Linked DNA regions of Homo sapiens: regions 2 and 3 are each linked to region 1. Evidence: fine-mapped expression QTL. A gene starts in region 1. Each other region holds a variant in brackets. All regions are shown on one strand. Distances are from middle to middle.

Region 1 (8,190 bases):
TCAATGGTGTCCAACTAATGTTCTCCCTGGACTCAAGCTGTAAATCAACTCATGGAGAGAAGGAAAAAGTTAGTTACAGTAATTGCTGCCAAGATAGCGAGTAGTTTTCAACATTATCAATTTAATGTAAAGATTCAGCTCATTAAATTTATATCAAGCCTTTCTTATGATTAGAACAAGTTTATTTCCAGAAAAGTTCAATTATAAAACTATCAATAGGATTTACTAATTTCAATAAGTCATTTTGCTTCAGGGTGAATTATACTAATTATTAATACATACAAGTCCCATTTGGACATAAAGAAAACCCTAGGTAGAGAAAAAATAATAATAATTAACTAATCATTGTTTATTTTTAAATAACTAATTTAAGAAGAAAACAATGAAGTGTGTTTGTTCCACACTTCAGAAATAACTCTAACACACTGGCAAATTCCTGAGCAATACAGAGCTCACTGCTAATAAAGAACACCAACTCTCCCTCCTTGGAATGACTTTCCTTTTGAATAAACCATATTAGACAGTTCTATTAAAGGACACATGATCCTTTTTATTTTTCATTAATCTATAAGAATTTAAACATGGCAAAATAATCAAAATGTTAAAAAGTCAACTATTTTTTCATGTGTGATTATTTTAGATGCATCTCTAAATATCTTCAGCTATAACTACTTTATATCCTAAATTTCTAAACATCTAAAAAAATTCAATGGATTTTATCTCTCACATTTCTTTTGTAATCACCTGAGGTCAGATCAAAACAATTAATTTGACCTTAACAATGTTTCTCTTATCTCACTAACTTTTAATAATTACTTTAGGATTCTTTCCCAGGCACTTGATTATGAATAGCAGAAAATCATATGACTGTGTTAGATGGCATCAGCTAATCCTCCAAAGCAACTGCTTCTCTCTGGTTTGGAAAGAAATCAACACCTCAGGCCTCCTCACAGAGATAATACACACTAGGCTATAACCCACAATAATTAAAATTTCTGTTAGCAAGTCTGTGATTTCCACAGCTCCAGCTTACTGCTGGCTGTTAAAGATAACAAAAATTAACAAGGGCCATCTACTATTGTGAGCTCTACTCATTTAGGTTCTTTGGGAATAGGGCAGGATATAAATAAATAAACACTGGTAAACAGCCTAATACCTGCTCCCAACACAAGCTAAGCAAAGGAGGTTAGAAGTGTCAATATGGTCTCACTGGATTCATCCATTTTGAATCATTTTCAACACTGTATTATTTATTATTTCACAAATTGTTTTTAACTGTCTACCACGTGAATCATGAAACCAACCACTAGGAAGGGTATAAAGATATACACTATTCATTCTCTACCTTTCAAAGGTTTAAATGTATTGGAAACACTAAATATAGTCATAGTACTTAAAATTACTATATATCCATGATGGCTTAGACAGTTCATACATGATAACCCTTCAGTCTACCCAAATCCCCACACGACAGATACTGGTTGTCCTTAGTTTATACTGTGCAAATGTAGTACCTATTCTTTGAGTGTCCACCCATTCCCATCAAAACCATTTCCTTCAGGAAAAGCTGATCTCACCTCCAGACCTCTAGGGCCAACTCTATCTATATGGTTAGACGAAACAGCAAATGCACTTTTATTATTAGTGCCAGTTTGGGTTATTTTTTCAAATTTTTGCAACAAAGTGTGATCCACAATACACAAGATCATATTCACTCCCCCAAATTAATATTTTCTTAAAGAGATGGGTGTTATATTTTCCTTCACTTTCTATTTTTCAGACATTAAGGAGAAGCTTGGCTGGCATCACAAAAGCCTGAAACATCATCAAATAAATATTTGTTGAATAAATTAGCTGAACAAATGAATAAGTGAATAACATATTGAATATGAAATAATTTTTCTGTTCATATTTCACCCTTACTTTCCCATGTGAATATGCATGATACCATATTGTAATGATAAAAGAAAACAAAAAACAATTTGATAATGGCACAGCCCTTTGAATTTATTTGTGTTTTCTTAGCTGATTGACAATTTTGCCTACTATCTTTTTATTCTATGGTAAATCATATTGACCTACTCTCTTCCCTGTTTGACATTATTTAAAAATCATTCATAACTGAAGTTAGGTGGCTAACACCTAGAAAATCGGAAATAGAAAAGAGTCACATATGTGACCCTTAGGGCAGTAGAATGAGTGTTTTGTTTTCCTCATAGTCATCAAAAGTGCAATCGATTTCATTCAGCAGCCAACTGCAGTTGTTAAAGAAACTAATGCCATGACTTAGGGCCCTTGTTCTCCAAGGAAGCTGAAGAATGTGTAGAGATGACACACAGCCTGAGGGGAAAGGGTGTGGTGGGGAGAAGAGAAATACTTTGAAAATATTAGTCACACAGACATGCTGAAGATCCTTCACCTCATGAGTGATAACTACTCCAGTGAGAGGTGATTAACTGTTACATTTAAAGTGGGAAATGCCTATATATAGAGAGAAAATGGTTATTTATTTCCAGACCCTGCCAACTTCCATATTGCTCTCTTGCTGTGTCATAGTCACAGACCTGTTCAAAGATAGGAAATATAATTTCTAATCTTCCTGTTCAAGAAATAATTTTATTGATCTCCACTTCATCTTTTATTTTCCCCATGATTCAGCAGGTCAAAACTGTTCCAGTTCCAGTAGCATCCTATCAGTCAGCAAAATGTCCATGAGGTTAAAATGTCTTACAAGTTAATAGGAGGTGAAGAAATTCATTTCAGCACCAAGGAGAGTGCCCTGCTATTTTCAATTGGTTTTATGTATTTGAAACTGTGTATTGTTCCTGAGGATAGAAAAAAAAGTTGAAATGTGATTGGACAGAAAGCTGCTAAAAACCTATTTTAATAAGAAGAAAAAAATACATTCATTTTTCTGAAATTAAAAACTTGCCAGGGTTTCATACCTGTTCATGATTGCAACAATGTGCTCTTCTTTTGGCTTTCAAACGTCGGAATTAGCAATTCTTTGCCTATTTTTCTAATATTAAAACCAGTTTCTGCATGGAATTAGACTGGCTCAATAAAGTTACAGAAGAGTTAAATTAGCAGTAATTAAAAACTTCATGCAGCAACTCCTAAACTTTTTCTCACCATTTTCAGAGCTGTGCACATGGTAAATGCTCAATACATATTTAAGTCAAGTGAAAGAGAACAAATGAATGACTGGCATCCATTAAGTGAGAAGGAGGAACTAATAAATGCCTTGTTTGTAATGAAAGTCATTTTTTGCAACTAGTCTCAAAGATCCTCACATACGACATTGCTCAATCCGAAACTTGAACACAGCCTTCCTGGGCCTACATAAACGTAGTCTCTCTGGATCTCAGAAAAATAATGACCCAGACCACACCTTTCATCTCTTCTAAGTTTTCCATGTAAAGCATTCTCCTTAGAGCCCTGGAAAGGTTACTAAAATTTTGACCCACTTAATCCTACACCTTCAGGGCAACATGGCATTCACCTGTGGTTTCCTTAATGCCCAAACCAGCCAGCCAACCTGTTTTCTGCCGTGTTAACAAATGGACAGGACACAGGCACCAGAGGTTAAACTTTCTTCCTCTTCCCCCATGTCCCCAGGTGGACCATTATTACCATCCCTATTCCCAAGCAACCAGGTAGCCCCTTCCTCTGTGCCAAGGGAAGAAAACACCATGCTTCCCTCTCCTGAGAGACCTTCAAGAGTTTAGAGACGCCTAAGTCCAGCTGTGCTAAAAGATAAAGGACAATAATGCAAGTCTGCTCTGAGCTGCCACCATAGCCAGACATAGGGTAGCCCTGAAAGACTAGAACCAAGGACAGAGCCAAAGGTGAAAGAAAATATGAAAAAGTGAAAACACAGTATTTAAACAGAATTTTCCAACAGCCTGCATATAGTGAGGACTTCTCAAGCTTCTGAATCCTTTTCCATTGAATTGTGCAATGGCACATGTATGAGCAAAGTCAAGCCTCCTGGCTCCCAGGTAGGCACAGCCCAGTTCTTAGCTCCTAGGAAGCTTCAGGGCTTAAAGCTCCACTCTACTTGGACTGTACTATCAGGCCCCCAAAATGGGGGGAGCCGACAGGGAAGGACTGATTTCCATTTCAAACTGCATTCTGGTACTTTGTACTCCAGCACCATTGGCCGATCAATATTTAATGCTTGGAGATTCTGACTCTGCGGGAGTCATGTCAGGGGACCTTGGGAGCCAATCTGCTTGAGCTTCTGAGTGATAATTATTCATGGGCTCCTGCCTCTTGCTCTTTCTCTAGCACGGTCCCACTCTGCAGACTCAGTGCCTTATTCAGTCTTCTCTCTCGCTCTCTCCGCTGCTGTAGCCGGACCCTTTGCCTTCGCCACTGCTCAGCGTCTGCACATCCCTACAATGGCTAAAACAGCAATGGGTAAGGCACTGCGCCTCGTTCTCCGTCGGCTCTACCTGGAGCCCACCTCTCACCTCCTCTCTTGAGCTCTAGAAGCATTCAGAGATATTTTATAAAGAAAAAGATGTTAATGGTAACACAGGACCAGGAAGGACAGGGCAGTTCTGGGGGAGGTGGGAGGGCAGAGAAGAGGTCTATGGAAATCTAAAGCGAAGAATTTCTTTTAAAAGGTAGAAGCGGGTAAGTTGCCCTCCTATGGGTAGAGAATTTATTCTGTTTCCATATTTAAAATTAGGACTCAATCGTGAGGGGAGGAAGCTACCTTAACTGTTTGCCTTAAATGGGCTTAAGGGACATTTTGGAAAGTGCTTTATAACGACCTTTTTTTTTTTTATTTCTTCTCTAGTTTAAGAAGAAAATAGGAAAGGGGTAAAGGGAAGGTGGGAGAAAGGAAAAAGAAAATTGCAAAGTCAAAGCGGTCCCATCCCGCTGTTTGAAAGATGGGTGGAGACGGGGGGAGGGGATGGAGAGAACTGGGCACATTTTACGGTATTGTCTCGTCGAAGAAACCGCTAGTCCTGGGGTGCGGTGCAGGGAGGTAAGACGGCGGGGGACAGGGTGGGGGTAGGACCTCCGCTCCTTTGTTTTAGGGCAAGGGAGGGGAAGGAGAGAGGAAGTCGCGGAGGGCGTGGAGGGCGCGGGTGGGCAGCTGCAGGGGCGGGGAAGCGCGCGGCAGGGAGGGGTGGAGGGACAGCGGCTTCGAAGGCGCTGGGGTGGGGTTTCTTTGTGTGCGGACCAGCGGTCCCGGGGGGAGGCACCTGCAGCGCTGGGCGCACAATGCGGACAGCCCCACCCAGTGCGGAACCGCGCAGCCCCGCCCCCCCGCCCGGTGCTGCATCTTCATTCGAAAGGGGGTCGGGTGGGGAGCGCAGCGTGACACCCAGGAGCCCAACCCTGCGGGGACAGCGGCGCCACGCCCCGCGCTCCCCGCTCCCGACTCCCCGCCGCGGCTTCCAAGAGAGACCTGACCACTGACCCCGCCCTCCCCACGCTGGCCTCATTGTTCTGCTTTTAAGAGAGATGGGAAAAGTGGGTTAACATTTTTCTTTTCGGAAGCAAATTACATAGAGTGTTTAGACATAGACACAGATAAAGGGTTCTTTGAAGACCTTTGATCGTTTGCGGGAAAAGCTTCTAGAACCTAGACATGTGTATGTATAATAATAGAGATGACATGAAATCGTATATAAAGCAAAAGAGGTCAAAGTCTTAAGTTAAGCCACGCGAAATTTCCGTTTTGTGGGTCAGACAGTGCCAAATATCGGCAATTTCATAAGCTCAGAGAGACAAGACAGTGGAGACACAGGATGACCGGAAAAGATTCTGGATTCAGGGCCTTCATCCGCAATTGGTCTTGTGCCTTGAGTGCCCACGGTTCTGGCGCTCAGTGGCCCCGGGGTGAAAAGGCAGGGTGGGGCCTGGGGTCCTGTGGCAGCTGGAAGCACGTGTCCCCCGGGACTTGGTTGCAGGATGCGGAGACAGGGAAAGCTGCCGAAAGGACTCCATCTGCGCGGCTCCGCCCTGCCCTACCCTCCCCGCGGAGCCGGGGAGACCTCAGGCTCCGAGACTGGCGGGGAAGAGGAATATGGGAGGGGCAGTTGAGCTGTATGCAGTCCTGGAACCTCTTTTTTCAGCCCCGCAGTCCACAACGGCCCGAGCACCCCTTGATGTGCGCAGACCCCCGGCGTGGCTCTCAGCCCCAGCACCGAGCCCCTCCCAGCCAAGCGGGTGGCTCTGCAGAAAAGCTGGCTCGAGCCCCGCCCGGCCACACAAAGGCGCGGCCCCACCCAGCCCGGGCGCGAGACCGCAGAGGTGACCCCCTTCCCAGGGATTCAGGGAGGGCTGTCTCTTCTCGCCCACCCACGGTCCGCGGAGCTCGGGGCTTTTTTTCCCCCAGCCCAAGCCCCCCGCCCACCCTCTGTTCTCTATGATTTTCCAGAATGGAGACCCCGCGAGGGGCTTCTCTAAGGGAGACCCTCGCTCCTCCAGCGGGGCGCGGCTCGGCCCCACCCCTCCCAGCTGAGGCCCAGAGCCGCCTACCGCTGGCCGGGTGGGGGCGCACGTGGCGACTGGGTGTGTGGAGCGCAGCCAGCCCTGCAGAGCCCCGCGCCGCGCCCTGCGCTCCCCTCCCCGGAGTTGGGCGCTCGCCCCCGCGGTGCAGCCGGGGAGACCGGTTTCTGCGCAGTGTCCTGAGCTACCCCCGCTTTCCACAATTCGCAGTTCACTCGCACGTCCAGAAAGGTTCTGAGAATGGGTGGTGGGGGCGATCTCGCCTCGCTTTCTGCACCCCTCAGAAAGGTTTCCGCTGCAGGCTAGTGGCTGCAAACTCATCGTCATCATCAGTATTATTATCATTTCAAATCGTTGTTATTATTTAATGATTCAGTAGCCTTGTTTGTTCTCATTTGTTCAAAAGGGACGTGGATTGCTCTTGGTTAAGGATTAACCCTTGTTGCGTTCGCTTTGCTTCCTCCTAATTGCCCTCATCCCTTTCCCCCACAAAAAGGTAAATTTGTCTCCAGTTGTTCATTTTAAGTTATAAAGCAAATATATTTTTGCTTCCTGCCAGGATTATGTATGTTCATGTGGCTAAGATACATGTGCAAGTGCTTGCTAAGAGCAGGGTTTGTGTGCCAACGATTGCTGGAAAATTCTCTGCAAAGAATTGTTTGTGGCTGCAATGGGTGAGAATACACATATATAATTGAGATGATCTTCAACATAAGGTTATATCTATAAATATATAAATATAGTTTATGCACAAAATTTTAAGTTTTTTCCCCTGAAACTGTTCTTCCAACTGCTGATTCTTGATACAGCCTCAATCCTACACAGATACATGGATCGTGAAATGGTAGCCGCCATCCAAATAAAAATCCCACCCCAAATATGACAAACGCAAGCATCCTTTCTGGCCATAATTTAACTGCATTTGCAAATCATGAAAAAAACACTACTTCTGCAGTATTAAAATAATAGATTTTGAAATTAATTCCAATTTCAAAGATAATTAATTATCAGGGCGAGTGCTTTTTTCCTGATTCATTAAACAATTATGTATTCAGCATGATTGTAAGAGGTGCATATAATATTCCCCATTATCTTTTCTAATGAAGTGGGCACCTTCTGAATGGATATATAAGTAACTAGAAATGAAAAGCTGAGGATTTGGTCAGAATTTCAGGATAAAACTGAAAGAAATGGCAGTAGTTTATCAATTAATCTCATGTATTTAGTTTATACCAGGTGAGTAAGCTGAGCCTGCAATAAACACTCTCTGTCCCAGTGTAACACGTCGCAGGTAGCTAGAATGATAGGATAAATTAATAGACCTTGTGGTGTTTGTCTATGCACGTTAAAATTCTCTGAGAGAAAGTATATTTTAAAATGATAATTAAGATTGGACATTTGTGCTATTAAAATCTACAACTTTAGTCAAAATTCACAATGGTTTTTTTTTACAATAATGTGACTTACAGATTTGTAGTAAATTATTCTATTCTAAAAGAGAAATGAGTGTTTTTATTGTTACAGCTATTACCTCATTAATATTTTTAGCAAACTTTTATTTGTTGCATTGAAAGCAGTTTTAATTACTTTGGGTTTTTATTTTTCAAATTACTAATGGATAGATGGTGGAATAAGCATTTAATCATTTGGCACAATATGACTTCCATCAAATAGCTCATTCTCAGTGATTAAAAAATGCTACAAGAGGCTACAATTTAC
Region 2 (8,190 bases), 28 kb after region 1:
GAGGTGACAATCTGGACTCTTGCAACTGCATGGCAAGGTTGGCACACAAGCTGGGTTGCAACGGAGGGAAGGAGATCCTTATCAGATGTAATCAGAGCTCAGATCGAGGGCTTTGGTGTGTGTAGAAAGAGGGAGAGACAAAGAACTTAAAACAGAGCTGCCATTTGACCTTGCAATCCCATTACTTGGTGTATACCCAAAGGAGAATAAATCATTCTATTAAAAAGACACATGTGCTTGTATGTTCATGGCAGCACTATTCACAATAGCTAAGACATGGAATCAAACTAGGTGTCCATCTATGGCAGATTGGATAAAGAAAATGGGGTAAATATAAAGCATGCAATACAACATGGCCATAAGAAAAAATGAAATCATGTCCTTTGCTGCAACATGGATGCAGTTGGGACCCATAATCCTAAGTGAATTAACACAGGAACAGAAAACCAAATACAGCATGTTCTCACTTATAAGTGGGAGCTAAACACTGAGCACACATGGACATAAATATGAGAACAATAAACACTGTGGACTACTAGAGGGGGGAAGGAGAGAGGTTTGTAAAACTACCTATCAGGTGCTATGCTCAATACCTGGGTGATGGGATTTACACCCCAAACATCAGCATCATTTAATATTCCCATGTAAAAAGACTGCACATATACCCCTTGTATCTAAAATAAAACTTGAAATTAAAAAAAAAAGAAAGAAAGAAAGAGGCTGGAAATAGAGGCTCACACCTGTAATCCCAGCACTTTGGGTGGCCAAGGTGGGTGGATTGCTTGAGCCCGGGAATTCAAGACCAGCCTGAGAAACCTGGTGAAACTCTGTCTGTACAAAAAATACAAAAATTATCCAGGCATGGTGGAGCGCACCTGTAGTCCCAGCTAATGGGGAGGCTGAGGGGGGAACATCACTTGAGCCCAGGAGGTGGAGGTTGCAGTGAGCTGGGATCACACCACTGCACTACAGCCTGGGTAACAGAGCAACTCTGTCTCAAAGAGAGAGAGGAAAGAAAAAAGAAAAGATGGACAGATAAGAAAATGCACTTGGAGATTAAGAGAAAGCAGCAACATAGGACCCTGGATAATGTGTTTGCTTAATAACTATCCTGATGAGTTATCTGACTATTCCCAAATGAGTACGTGGCAATTCAGGCTGAACCATCAGAGTAGCCCTCCGGAATCTTACTTATGTACAATAGACCTGCATGCACATTTACTAGAATGAGCCTCTCTCTCTGGTAATCATGTCTGCTTCCACTAATTCCATCTGTTTCCTCTCTCTCCCTCCTATCCTGCTAGATCTTAATTCCTTCGACCTTCCTTTGTTTTTCTAACTCCCTTTCTTTCTCTTGTTATTTAACCTGCTATACTATGCAATTGATCTCCTCTGCACTAAGGAACATGCACTTCAGAATTCTGTTGACATCTTGCATTCCTTTATATTTAGTGAAAGAATGCAAAGGAGTCTACCTGGCAATATTCACTCTGCAGGAGGCAATAATTATTATTCAAATTAAAGGAAGCAGTAAAGAGAAATTCAGAAAAAATGAAATATACTAATCTTCAGCTTTTCATTTCAGCCTACAAGGAAAAAATGAAGGAGCTGTCCATGCTGTCACTGATCTGCTCTTGCTTTTACCCGGAACCTCGCAACATCAACATCTATACTTACGATGGTGAGTAACCTAGGATAGACATACCCCTGCTAGCTAGATCATTTGGAAAGGTTGACATATATTTGTTTCTTACAGCTCCTGATATAATTACATCAATATTTTGTAGCTCTCACTATTGACTTGCCGTGTCTAGCTATTATGTCCAATTGATTACCTATTGCTGAAAACAGTTTGAATTTGGTGCTAATAACAACACATCAATGTCTGTTAAGAAATGTGGATGGATTCTTATTAACAGCCACATCCAGCATATCAACATCCACAATATGTCTAAGGTCTTTCTTTGCAAATAATTTAATAGGCTAAGCCATAATTGGAGTAGATCATAATTTGTAAGAAAATGCTTTATACTTAGAAAACTCAAGAGAAAGAATCAACAACCATAATTGTTTTTGCTTTATTGTAGTCTTTATAAAGTTTCTATACTTTGTATATACATGTCAACCAGCTAATGATAATAATAATTGGCTCAATAAATAAAACTGACTTACGACTGAGGCCCTAGATAAAGAGGGTCTGAAAAGAAAAGCCTAAAGAATTAGCATGGCAATTAACATGATTGAGGTGCAACTCTTTAGGTTTGATTTATCCTGATTCATTTTGCTTACTTTGGCTCTGCCACAATCCACATGATCTTGGTCAAATAGATACTTGGATTCTCTAAGTCTCATTTAACTCTAGCATCTTCCTCTTGGAGTTGTTGTGAGGTTTAAACGGTTTAATGTAAGTCAAATATGCAAAACCAAGCCTAGCTCATTATATCACTCTACAATGATAGCTATCATTATCAACATCATCCTTACCTAATTCAGTCAATTTAACTAAAATATTTTATACAGTTCTATGTATCCTAGATATCCCTAAGGCATATTTTACTAACTCTCAGGCTCACAAATATTTTTCTTTTCCATATATGTAAAGAAAGACATTAATGACAAAACAAACTGACCTTGTGGCAGTTAACCCCTTCTGCACCTTTAAAGCCTATTCAAGGACTCAAAGGCATTTACCTTCCAAAGTTATTCTATCGTAGCACAAAAATCATAAATGCTAATTAACTGTTCCATAAGGAAATGTCCTCCATGTGAAAGGAATTCTGTCTCCAAACAAAACATTCATTAGAATGCAGGGCCAATGCCTACTTTGTACAAATTCATTCGGTCAGCAAATAAATTAGACAGACCTTTATTATTTGCTAGATGTAGCTGTGAAGAAGGATCCAGCTATGTTTCTTATGAGACTAATGTCGAACTATGGGTTGTCACTGAGGATCCAGAGTTCCATAGGGCGTAGTCCTCACCTTCAAAGAATTCAGGGCTTAGTAGAAGAGTCTTACACAAATGACTAGAATGTAGAACACAGAGTGGTTAGGACAAAGGAGCCAGGGATGGTTTTTGCTGGGTTAGGGAATGAAAAAAGGGGAAGAAAATATGTGAAGTTATGTGTGAGCTGATTCTTGAAATAAGCTGTTTTTATTTGCCTGCGTTCTCTTATAATCCTTTTCCATAGGCTTCCATAATTTTTATTGAGCTGTATTTAAAGTTGAATAGATAATTCAACATTTCTCGTAAACTGTGCTTCCTAAAAGAGTCCGTAGAGAATTTCAAATTTCTGCAGTCTTTAACTTGACCTGGTATTTCTATGTTAGATAATAACGTGACTTGTTTATTGCAGGCAAACATTATAACAA[T/G]AAATTATTATTATTGTTTACATTTGTAAGCACTAAGTATATGGCTTGTGCTTTGCATTCAGCATCCTTTATCATTTAATCTTCACAACCACCTTAGAAGGAAGGTACTCTTTTTATTTCCATCTTTTAAATGAGGAAATAAAAGCATAAAGAAGTTAATTAACTTACCTAGTGTCACACAGCTATTAAGAGGGGCTTACTATTTGGATGCAAATATAGGCAGTTCTAATTCCAGAGCCTCTAATCTAAGGCATTTAAAACCCCATCACCTTATCAAATAAGCTGTTTTTATTTGCCCGTGTTCTCTTATAATCCTTATCCATAGGTTTCCATAATTTTTATAAAATTGTATTTAAAATTTAAGTATAATCTTGGATGCCATCAGGAAAATGAAAAACATTTTTACATTTGTGAAGGAAAAAGCCCACATCATTTCCAATATAGTTATTGAGTTAGTATTATCTAGACTATCTATTAGCAGCTAAGGATCTGAGGTCAAGGCCTGCCAGCCTGGCATTTTACTTGACCACAACCTCCATGTGCACTAACCAGGCTGCTAAAAGAACATTAACGGGAACATAACCTGCTGGCTTGGTTGCCACAATTTTAAAAAGACGTTAATAAATTAGAGAGCACTTAGAGGTTAGGAAATAATATGGTGGTAAAGATCTAGAAACAGTGTCATTCTGGGGCACTTGAAGATGTTTAGCCTGGGGGAACAACTTGAAATGGAACATAACTGTTTTCAAATACTTGAAAAATGGTGGTGCACCACAGAGAATGGCCTAATCATGGGTAGCTTCAGACTTCAAACAAGGATCAGTGGGCTAAAACCAGAGAGATGGAGTTTGGGACTCAAAGAATGCTCATCTGAAATTGAGGGCTGACCAGCGAGGTTCTTTTAAAAATCATTGCATTTTACTAAATTGTGAGTTCTGTAATTATAAATGTCCTAGCAGGTGCTAGCTGTCATCTTTTCTATTATAAATTATACTATTTTATGTTATAATTTGTATTATACAGGCTTAAAACATAAGGGTCTGATAATCTGCTTATCTTTAATACATAAGCCACTGATAGAAAATAAGTGGCTAACCATTCTTCAGTTCTTTTTTTAATTGACAAAAATTGTATATGTTTGCGGTGTATGGCATATTTTGAAATATGTATACATTAGAGAATGGCTAAGTGAAGCAAATTCACATATGCATTACCTCACACACCTGTCATTTATTTGTGATGAGAACAAAAAATCTACTCTTTCAGTGATTTTCAAGAATACAGTACATTGTTATTAACAATAGTCAGCATGGTGTACAATAAGTCTTCTGCGGCCGGGCGTGGTGGCTCACGCCTATAATCCCAGCACTTTGGGAGGCCAAGGCTGGCAGATCACGAGGTCAGGAGTTCGAGACCAGCCTGACCAACATGCTGAAACCTTGCCTCTACTAAAAATAGAAAAATTAGCTGAGTGTGGTGGTAAGCGCCTGTAGTCCCAGCTACTCAGGAGGCTGAGGCAGGAGAATTGCTTGAACCTGGGAGGCGGAGGTTGCAGTGAGTCGAGATAGTGCCACTGCACTCCAGCCTGGCAAAAGAGGGAAACTCCGTCTCAATAATAAGTCTCTTGCATTTGTTCTTCCTGTTTAACTGAAATTATGTATTCTTTGATCAACATCTCCCCAGTCTCCACCCCTAACCCCTGGTAACCACAATTCTACTCTGCTTCCGTGAGTTCAACTTTATGAATAGTCCACATGTAAGTGAGATCATGTGGTATTTGTCTTTCTGTGCCTAGCTTATTTCACTTAGCATAGTGTCCTCCAGGTTCACCCATGTTGTCAAAAATGACAGGATTTCCCCCAACTTTTTTAAGGCTGAACAGTATTCCATGTGTATGTGTATAAATTAGATTAGTAGATGTTGCCACTCCCTCCTCCACCACAGTGGCTCTATCCCTGGCTCCTGGCTCCAGCCGAGTACACTAGAGGAGGATATTCTAAACAGCAACAACACAGGAGCAAAGACATTACAATGGGGTGTTGTCTTATTGCCCCCATTAGACTGTAAGCATCTTGAAGACAAGGACCCCCATCACAGAGTGATGTTGTCATCCCTGGAGTGGGCACTGTGCATGATTGATGACTGGAAGCAATGAACATACAGAAGGGCAAAACAGAAATCAGCAGGATGCTTTGCATTTCAGCATTGACTTTGCCAAATATGCCCAACTGTTCAGGGAGTTACATTGGTTCTAACGAAGCTCCTGTGATTCCTAAGCACAGGAATGGTGATAATATATATAATGGTGCATGCATATATACGCATATCTAGATAATGATATCTCATTATATGTGAGAACTGAAGAACTCCGTTATGTTTCTCGTCTAACCAAAAAGGGCCTACAGCTACGATAATTTCCAAACAAATAAATCTGTGCTACTTGATTTTCATGCAAAGCTCATATTTGTTCAAAAGGAAAATAAAGCTTAATTTAAAATCAATTTAGGCTATTTTTATCTAAGTATGCTTACCGTTATTCAACTCCCTGCAGATATTGTCAAATTTCTCAATATGGTAAATATTTATTCTGTTAAAATATATCCATAGTTACACTAAAGACAGAGAGGTCTTATATGTTCTAAACAACATAGAGCAAATGCTCATAAACAGCATTTTATTCCTATCTCCCGGAATAACAACGCTACTTCCAATTGCTGGAATCTAAATTATTAAAATAAACCCATGCTGCAAGCTTTGTATGCTTAACATTCTCAAATGTTCACTTTTCAGATATGGAAGTGAAGCAAATCAACAAACGTGCCTCTGGCCAGGCTTTTGAGCTGATCTTGAAGCCACCATCTCCTATCTCAGAAGCCCCACGAACTTTAGCTTCTCCAAAGAAGAAAGACCTGTCCCTGGAGGAGATCCAGAAGAAACTGGAGGCTGCAGAGGAAAGAAGAAAGGTAACTTTTTCCATAGGTTTTCCTTCTCTCTCTCCCTCCCCTGCTCCTCCCTCTCACACACTCGGGCACACATGCACGCACACACACACACACACACACACACACACACACACACACACACATACAGAGAGCAATGACAGCTGAACCTGTGCCATGCCAACATGTATAGGTTTTCAGTAGACACAGAGCCAGGCTAGTTGGGGTAAAAACTGTAAGATAGATGCTAATTTTAGGCTAGCCAAACCAGAGCTCTCAGAAATCCAAAGAGCTTCAGTGCTCTAGTGCCCCTTCCCGTATATTGAATCCCCTTATTATAAAAGCCTCCCTTCCCTAGACCATCAGGCAGAAGCACTGTAGAGAAAACACAGCCCTGGCGAACTCCAGTGGTGGGGAGGGGAAGAAGTGCTGCTTCCTCCCTCTCAGGATCTGTGTCACCCCCTTTGTCAGGCGTGGTTTTCCTTGGAATTACAAATTACCAGATCTTCCCTCCAAGATCTTTCCTGCCCAGGGTAAGGGCCAAGAGCTTGCCCCTTTCCTCTTCAGAGTCCCACTGCCTGCCCTGGAAGTTGGTCCTTCCAAGATCAGGACCTTCTCTGAGTTCTTTGAATATGTTCTTTATCTTTTTCTAAGACTTGATGGGGATTTTTCTCTTTTTGCCATTGGTCCCTGCTTATATTAAAGAGCTTTCCTTTTGCCAAATCTTTACTTTTCCATAATCACATGGCTAAGAAGAGCCAAGGGTATTATTTGAGAACACTTAGAAATCCTAGGGACTGTGTACACAAACAGAAGTTGTTTGAATGTGTCTGTTCCAACCATGTGGTTATGGTAGTTAATCCCATCAAGGTACTCACGATCATCCAAAAATGGAATTCTTTTATGTAATTCATCCCCACATTGTATTTCCCAATATTTTTTATGATATAATTTTAGAATCAGGTAATCACTAAGAACATGTTCCCTGCACAGTTTTATGATGTTTTCTCTAAAAAGTCAGCCAAAACTTTGGACACTTCTATGTTGGATAATTAAAAACAGAATGAAGATAATCCTCCTCCTAAAGATTGAATTCTCCAAGAGAGAATGCAGGACAAACACAGATGTGCTGTGTATAGTATATGTGCATATATACATGCATATATGTACACAAATATGTGTATTATCAAATAATGAGGCTCAAACATTAGAAATCCTTAGATTAAATTTTCTAAACAAGAAAACACTAATCTTTGTAGTTGAAAAAAAATCCTCCTATGATATGTAATATGCTGATCTCAATTTTCACCTAAGAGTGATGTTCTCCAAATGTCCGATGAGCATGTCATATATATATATATGAATTTTTATATATATAATTACAATGGTAATTGGTATATAGAGATATCTATATTATAGATATATATAGCTATCTCTATATATTACATATACCAATTATAGATATAAATATAACAATGGTAACTGGTGTATATGTGATGTGTATATATGTATATGTATACCATAATTATATATTAATATTGTATATATGCCATAATTATATATTAATATTGGTATATATACACCATGATTATATATTAATATTGGTGTGTGTATGTGTGTGTGTATATATATATATATATATAAAATACTAGTTATCATTGTTCTAGATTTAAAAAACAGGAACCTGAGCTACTAACTCGACTATATATATATATATATATACAGGAAGTTGCTTTAAAACATTTTTATCAGCTTTTTTATTGTTATTTTTAGCTTTATTCTCATAGTAAAGCTAAAATAAATTATTCAACATTATCAAAACTTTGCTGCCAGCAGATGTAAGCAATACCTAAAACAGTGGAGAGCATGTTGCACCCAAA
Region 3 (8,190 bases), 250 kb before region 1:
GATGAACTGAGTGATGAGTTCAGTGAGTAAAACTAGGCAACCTTCGTGCTTAAATATTATGTATGTGAAACATCCTAACTGTAGTCATTTGCACATGGAAATGACTGGAAACAAATAGAAAGCTTTTGTGGAACTTGCTTTGCCAAGAAAACCCCAGGCCTGGCTGCAACAGCTTGTGATTTTTGAACCCCTAAATTCATCTCTAAGTCCACAAGTTGCATCCATAAAGAGACCTTAGAAAGCAGAGGAACCCCAAGAAAAGACATCTTCTCCTCAGCCTACCTCAGAAGAGGCAGTAGAAGAAATGGACAAGCAGAATCCTCCCCTTCTGCCCTGCAACATGCACACAGAGAAGAATTAGAAGCTAGGAAAAATAAAGGATTAAGGAGGAAACCTAGAGAGAAGAACCAGGAGTTGCCAGATTTGCTCTCTGATGTGTTCTGTGTTGGGCACCTGCCCCGATTCCCTTCACCAGGCCCAGCTGCTGTGCTGTTGGCTGCCAATGTCTCCCAACTGTACCCCTTTCCAGAGACTTGCTCTCTGCCAGTTAAAGCCACCTGACTCAGATGTCTGCGCAGTTACACAAAACCCAGTTGCTGAGTGCTGACCAGCAGCTAACAGCTCACTGATATTAGTATAAAAGCCCAGCCCTCTTGCTTCAGGGCAGGACAACTCCCTGGTACCATTCATACTCCCAAACTCCATATGGGATGAACTCTAGTCCACAGTTAGCTTATAGGTCACCAGATCATGAGGCACATCACCTGGAACACTGCCTTGCAATGAAGGTAAATCTATTCTATGTATGAAAAGAAGATGTGTATTGGTATCAGGTAACTGAACTGGTGTAGCATAAATGATTTTGCTGTTGCCTAATCAATGTCTACTCTTCCTTTTTTTTTTTTTTTTTTTTTTTTTTACAAACAGAAGCCTGATCTTGTTTGAAGTGGCAATTACACCATCTCTAGTTACATTCCCTACTCCACAGCAGTGAGGGAGCACTATATGACCTAGTTCTGGACAGTCATATAGAAGCAGAAGTCACAGGACAAAGCTTCAGGGAAAACTTTAAACCGGAGGAGACACAAGTGGCATGAGCTTTTACCCCAGCTCCTTCCTGCTGCCGGAGGAAGAATAGTCATCTTACACCAAGGGGACTACTATGAAATGAAAGCCACATCCTAAGAATGTCATGAAAACTTTGTAGGGTCACGGTATTGACCCTCACCTATTTAAGTCACTGTGTGTCAAATTTCTTGTACATCAAATGCAATCTTAATGCATAAGACACTCGAAAAATGATCAAGAATATAGTAAGGCAATTTACAAAAGAAATGCAAATTTTCAATAATTAATACATTTTTCAAAGGTTTTGTTTTGGGGTAAGAGATGGACAAATATTAAAAATGTGGAAAAGTATAGAATATCAGAAAAGCTATAACCAAGCTGCTATTCATTCACACTGTTAGGAAGACACACTGATAGAACACTTCTGAAGGAAGGTTTAGTAATGTATCTATTCGTGAAACCATGCTTTCCAGATTTCTGGTGCAAGAAGGCAATCTAAATAAGTGCATTTATATTTTCTCCCACACAAAAGCTTTCTAAAATTACTGTGAAAGTCATTATTTACAAAATAATTGACTAGGCGAAAAAATCTAAAAGAATGTACAGATAAGCTGCATAAATGTCTTCTTTTGAGAAGTGTCTGTTTATATCCTTCACCCACTTTTTGATGGGGTTGTTTGTTTTTTTCTTGTAAATTTGTTTGAGTTCATTGTAGATTCTGGATATTAGCCCTTTGTCACATGAGTAGATTACAAAAATTTTCTCCCATTCTGTAGGTTGCCTGTTCACTCTGATGGTAGTTTCTTTTGCTGTGCAGAAGCTCTTTAGTTTAATTAGATTCCTTTTGTCAATTTTGGCTTTTGTTGTGACATTTATGCAGCCAAAAGACACATGAAAAAATGCTCATCATCACTGGCCATCAGAGAAATGCAAATCAAAACCACAATGAGATACCATCTCACACCAGTTAGAATGGCGATCATTAGAAAGTCAGGAAACAACAGGTGCTGGAGAGGATGTGGAAAAATAGGAACACTTTTACACTGTTGGTGGGACTGTAAACTAGTTCAACCATTGTGGAAGTCAGTGTGGCGATTCCTCAGGGATCTAGAATTAGAAATACCATTTGACCCAGCCATCCCATTACTGGGTATATAACCAAAGGATTATAAATCATGCTGCTATAAAGACACATGCACACGTATGTTTATTGCGGCACTCTTCACAATAGCAAAGACTTGGAACCAACCCGAATGTCCAACAATGGTAGACTGGATTAAGAAAATGTGGCACATATACACCATGGAATACTACGCAGCCATAAAACATGGTGAGTTTGTGTTCTTTGTAAGGACATGGATGAAGCTGGAAACCGTCATTCTCAGCAAACTATCGCAAAGACAAAAAATCAAACACCGCATGTTCTCACTCATAGGTGGGAATTGAACAATGAGAACACATGGACGCAGGAAGGGGAACATCACACACCAGGAGGGAGGAGGGATGGCATTAGGAGATATACCTAATGTTAAATGACGAGTTACTGGGTGCAGCACACTAACATGGCACATGTGTACATATGTAACTAACCTGCACGTTGTGCACATGTACCTTAAAACTTAAATTATAATAATAAAAAAAGAAAAACAAAGTGAAATGATGTGTTGTACAATGACAGGCCCTGGAAAAACTGTCACACTGGACTCCAATTGGGTGTTTGTGATGCCCTGCTCCTGGGCAAAACTGCCCATGTGTCAGTGGCAGCAGAGTGGACAGCTGAGTGATGGGACCTCCACACAGTGGGCTTCTAGTCAGCAGTGAAAATGAGTAATTCATCACATCATTATCAAAGAGACAGTGTTGAGAAAGAAGCAAACCATGGAAAATACACACGGTCTCCCTCAATCCGTATGAAGTTCAAAAGCAGGACAAGCTGAAAAACAGTTTGTTGAAGGGCTCACACAGGAGGTCATACTTTAAGGAAAAGGAAAGAGATGATGAATTCTGTGGTTCCTGAGGTATTGGCAGTATTCCTAGCCTGCGAGGCTAATAGATGTGAAACTCACATCATGTGGAATTCACCATTTTAAAGTGTACAATTCAGTGGCATTTAGTACATTCACAATGTTGTGCAATCATCACTCCTAGTATTACTTTGTAAACTTTACAAATTCATTGTATTTATTTATTTAACGGTTGTTACAGTTTGCAACTAAAATAGAAGGAAATACATCAAAATATTAGCAGTGGCTCTTCTGGGTGAAGTACAAGGGGCAAATTGTTTTCTCCTGTTTGTTTTTCTGTACTTTGTTTACTATACATGTTGTTTACTGTGTCACATTGTTTACTGTGAATAGTTACTATTTGAAACTAAAGATCAAGGGCAATAAACTGTATTTTAAGAGGAAGTCAGAAAACAAAACAAAACAAAAAAAGAATGTACAGATAAGCTATTAGAATCAATAAGGTACTACTGATAAAAGCCAAAAACTGAAAGAAATGTACATTAACAGTAAAATAGGCAATTAAATTATGGCATTTTCATACAATGTAATTATATAACAAGGATAATAAATCAACAAATGTTATTGACTCACACAGACATAATGTGCAGCAAAAGGAGCTGGACGTAGAGTACATACTGATTCCATTAAAATTAATCCAAAAGCAAGCAAGACTAATCTACGATGTTTGAAGCAAGGAGCGTGAGGAGGGGTTCTGCAGGAGACTCTAGGATTGCAGTCTTCTGCAGCGCTGGTTATGTTTTTCATCTTGATCTAGGTATTGGTTACATGAATGTGTTCATATCATGAAAATTTAGTAACTTAAAAGATCTTTGGGCATTTCTGTAACTATGCTATGCTTTCCTAAAACACTTACTTTAAAACATATGATAGCAAAGGGATATTCAGTAAGTGTAACATAAAACCACTACAATGGATGGGGTCATCAGAAGCTTATAGAATTCAACCAATTTCTGAAGAAAGAAGTCAAGCTGCATGAAGAAGCCACACACTGGCACTCCAGTTGACAGCTCCAGCTGATCTGCAGGCCAACAGCCAGCACCAATTGCCACCTTATGGAGGAGTCATCTTTTTACCATCCAGCTCAGCTTAGCCTTCAGATGACTGCAGTTCCAGTGAAATCTGACAGCAACTGCATTAGAACTCTCAAGTGAGAACTGCCTAACCAGTCTTTCCAAAATTCATGATTTACAAAATCATGAGCAAAACTGAAAGGTTGCTTTAAGGGACTAAGTTTTGGGGTAATTTGTTACATAATTATAGTAACCGAAAAAGAAGAGCATCCAAGGTCCTATTATCAGGAGTCTCATTAAAAGAGAAGAAAGAACACAGAAGATGAAGATATTTTTAAAATAAGAACAATAATATGAGAAAATTTCCCAGTGCTCAAGGAAAACAATAGTTGTTAAATAGAAGGGCTCACTGAGTGCTAAACAGGGTAAATGAAAACAGATGCTGTCTTAGAAATACAGTTGTGAAACTTCAGAACATCAGTATTTCCACCCATGTCTCAATCAGCTATGTCAGGGATCAGAGGGCAGGGGATAGTCAGGCAGTTACCACCACCACCCTCTACCGAGCAAGAACTGGTTATTTTAAAAAATATATTCTATGGTGTAGATACATACACTCACATAACAGATTACTATACATACATACACTCACATAACAGATTACTATACATTTTTTAAATATTATGATTTAGTTCCATATTTCTTGACATAGAAATGTGTCAGAAAATATTATTGAGAAATAAAAGCAGATTACAGAAAAACCT[G/A]CGAACTAGTTGTTGGAGAGTTTGCGAAAGAAAAATCAACATTGGCTAGATAAGGTGATAAAATATGGAGCCAGCAGGCTTAGCGATGAAACACTTAGGTATGCAACAACTTTCTAGACTAGAAACGATGATAAAGCACAGTGAAGGAGAACTGACCCAGGAGGCAAGAAACCTTGGATTTAATGTGATTTTTCCATTAGTTATTTGTGTTTGAGCAAGACAGAATAACTTCTCACACATGTAAATCCCTCATTAGTAAAACAACAGGGCTGCCTAAATAAGCCCTCATGAATTAAATTCTATGATTCCATGATTGAAAAAGTCACAAGGCTTTTCCCAACATTGTCAGTATCAAGGAGCTTCATGGGGGATAGGAACACTTTAATCCATAGAGCCCATAGCACCTTCCAGCTAACACGTCCTTGAAACATTGTTACTGCTATCTCTACCTAGCTGAGATAGAGTGAAAAACTAAAGTAATTATTTGGGTAAACGAAGTCACTCCCCCATAACTCCTTGCTAGAGATATACGTTAATTGGCTTGTCATTCTATTCAGTCATACATTGACAATTCTAAAATTATTTTTTGTAACATGCAAATGCAAATTGTCTTTGTAACTTGTCACTACCTTGAGTCAGAGATTAAATTGTTAATAATGCAAAAAGTCTTCTGTTATTTATTCTATCCTTCTCTTAATAATGTTTTAATACATACTGTAATTTAAGTGAAATTAAGAAAAATAGACCAGAAATTAAATGCTAAAACAAGTGATTACAGATTAGTGTTATAATTCAAAATACAGCACATGGTTTAAAGTTTTAAATTGTATCAGAACTAGTATTGACCTCCAACCCTTATCTTCTTAATCAATTACTGCAGAAGCTCTTCTAACCAACTACCATTTAATTAATTCTTATTCTTAACTAACATTTTCCATTTCTTATGTAAAATTTAAATACAGATGCTCATTGCACACTGAACACTCTCCAATCTTAAACTACCCTCCTGAATACCTGAACACTTCCTCTTGCAGTTGAGTTGTGTGCCTATTAAGAGTTTAATTATTCAGTTTTCAACTATTTTATGTCTGTTATATTTGTATTATGATCACATTATTCAAGGAAATGTTACATAAACACATGAAATATGAGTAGAAAAATAAAGATGATAGTCTAGAAAAATCCTACTCTCAGATTATGCTTAATTTTCAATAAAATCATAACTGGATGCTATGGAGTGAATATTTGTGTCCTCCCAAAATTCATATGTTAAAATCCTAACCCCTAAGGTGATGGGCATAAGGAGGTGAGGCCTTTGGGAAGTGATTGGGTCATAAGGATGGAGCCCTCATGAATGGAATTAACTCCTTTTTAAAAGAGGCATGAGAGAGCTCCCCAGTCCCTGCCACCATGTGAGAACGCTGCAAGAAGACGCTATGATCCAGGAAGCAAACTTCACCAGATGCTGAATCTACCAGCAGCTTGATCTGGGACTTCTTAGCCTCCAGAACTGTAAGAAATAAATTTCTATTGTTTATTAGACACATTGTTTATAAGACACCTAGTGTATGGTATTTTATTATGGGGGTCCAAAAGGACTAAGACACTTGATATTAGATAATAAATTATGGGTTGATTTACTCAACAAAGATAGCACAGAACTGTAACCACAAAATCCATATTCATAGAAAATGCCTACAAAAATGCAGAAAAATAAATTTACTCTTCTGGTTTTAATTTAGAGCCAAAGGTTTTATTTTTGTGTGCTCATCTGTCAGGATGTCTAAGTTATGCTGCAGTAACAAACAATCCCCAAATTTCAGTCATCTAAAACAGCAGCAGTTTAACAGACATACTATACCTCTATTGCATAGTGCTTGGAAGGAGACTTTAAATATTTGTGACTATCTCTGATGAACACCTGCATTGAATTTAGCCAACTGCAAAGTTGAAGGGAATACAGCCTATACAAGACCGTTCTCACCTCTGACATCAATTGCAAATCTGGTGTGTGTGTGTATATAGGGGAATGGTTTTCAAAACCACCCTCAGGATTAATAACCCACTAGAAGGACTAAAAGAACTTACTGAAAGCTGTTATACTCATGGTCATGATATACAACAGAGAAAGAGTAACAGTCAAAATCAGCCAAGGGAGGAAAATACCAGAAAGAGTCTAGAAAAGGTACTGAAACATTTTCTAGGTTCCTTATCCCCTTCGCAGGAAGTGTGACAGGAGTGTGGCCCAAATGTTCAGTCGCCCCGCTGCTCAAACCCCTTGAGGGAGCGTGAGCATGCAGACCGGCAGGTGCAGGAGCCAGGAGAGCACTTTGAGCTCCAGCTCCACGGTAGTGTCTGGGGATGTGTGTCTGCAACCCCAGTGTTACAGAGCTCTTTCAGCTTTGCCATCCGCAGATGGCCTGAGTGTTAATCAGCTCACCCTCTGCCTTTTCGCAAGGGCAGAGGCCACTGTGACGCCTTCCTGTATCCCGAGCTCTTGTCCATCATCCGCGGAAAATCGAGGCACACACGGACTTGAAGGATGAATGTAAGGTTTTACTGAGTGGTGGAGGTGGTTTTCAGCAGGATGGATGGGGAGTCAGAAGTGGGGGATGGAGTGGGAAAGCGATCCTCCCCTGGAATCCAGCTGCCGAGAGGCTGGACGCCACTCTGTACGCCCCAGCCGAACTCCTCCGGGCGTTCAGATGTTCCTCTCCTCTCCCTTTCTCTGCCACGTCGTTCAGCCATCTGTCTCCTTTCTGCTGGCTTGCTGGTCTGCTCTGGAGCTTGGAGTTCGGGGTTTAAGGGGGCCTTGAAGGCCAAAAGGCAACTTTTTGGGTGCAAAAACAGGAATGCCTGCTCTCATTTAGGGCCACAGGTATGCAGGCTTGAGGTTGGGGCCTTTGTCTGGGAACCACCCTCTTCCACCCAGTACTTCCCTGTCTCCTGTCTGTATCAGTACCAAACAAACAGATCCTGTTGTCCTCTCTTTGCAGAATCACAGATATGTGACCTTCCCAGCATTGATGTGAAACAATTCAGAGTACTGGCAACCAGGGAAGCTCACCCAAGCTTTCAGTGTCCAGAGGTTTTATGGGGGTTTGATCACATACTATTCACGTGGCTGCCCTTTAGTCTCCAGTACCTCCCAGAATTTCAGGCTAATTCCTTTATTCTTCAGTCCCTTCCCCAAGCAAAGACATTCCTATCAGGCATGATATTTCCAGGGACTAGAGATCGTCTCTCAGTAGCTGAAGGTAAAGGCCAGACCTCTCCTTGAGTTAACTGAATTCTTCACTGCACACCACGTTATCATTTCAT

Alleles and levels. Alleles are on the strand shown, and positions count from the first base shown. SD is a standard deviation of normalised expression in the study named.
For the expression in testis of the gene that starts at base 4,325 in region 1, allele T in region 2 goes with a lower level than allele G (small effect, 0.33 SD a copy in GTEx).
For the expression in fibroblasts of the gene that starts at base 4,325 in region 1, G is the low allele of the variant in region 3 and A is the other (small effect, 0.30 SD a copy in GTEx).

Evidence for each region.
Region 2: its variant is fine-mapped to the expression of STMN2 in testis (GTEx, PIP 0.99).
Region 3: its variant is fine-mapped to the expression of STMN2 in fibroblasts (GTEx, PIP above 0.99).

The regions. Positions count from the first base shown.
Region 1 is chr8:79,606,793-79,614,982 of GRCh38, forward strand. STMN2 (stathmin 2) reads left to right here and starts at 4,325. Exons shown (of 5, transcript NM_007029.4): 1 at 4,325-4,422. The coding sequence starts at 4,404. RefSeq lists a silencer at 6,575-6,634.
Region 2 is chr8:79,635,217-79,643,406 of GRCh38, forward strand. STMN2 (stathmin 2) reads left to right here. Exons shown (of 5, transcript NM_007029.4): 2 at 1,586-1,681; 3 at 6,162-6,334. It overlaps LOC105375916 (a long non-coding RNA gene), which reads right to left and starts at 2,950. Exons shown (of 3, transcript XR_007060974.1): 1 at 2,865-2,950. The variant T/G (reference allele first, on the strand shown) is at 3,372.
Region 3 is chr8:79,352,786-79,360,975 of GRCh38, forward strand. No RefSeq gene overlaps it. Among named protein-coding and RNA genes, the nearest start is that of MIR12123, 25 kb to the left of the region's middle. The variant G/A (reference allele first, on the strand shown) is at 4,870.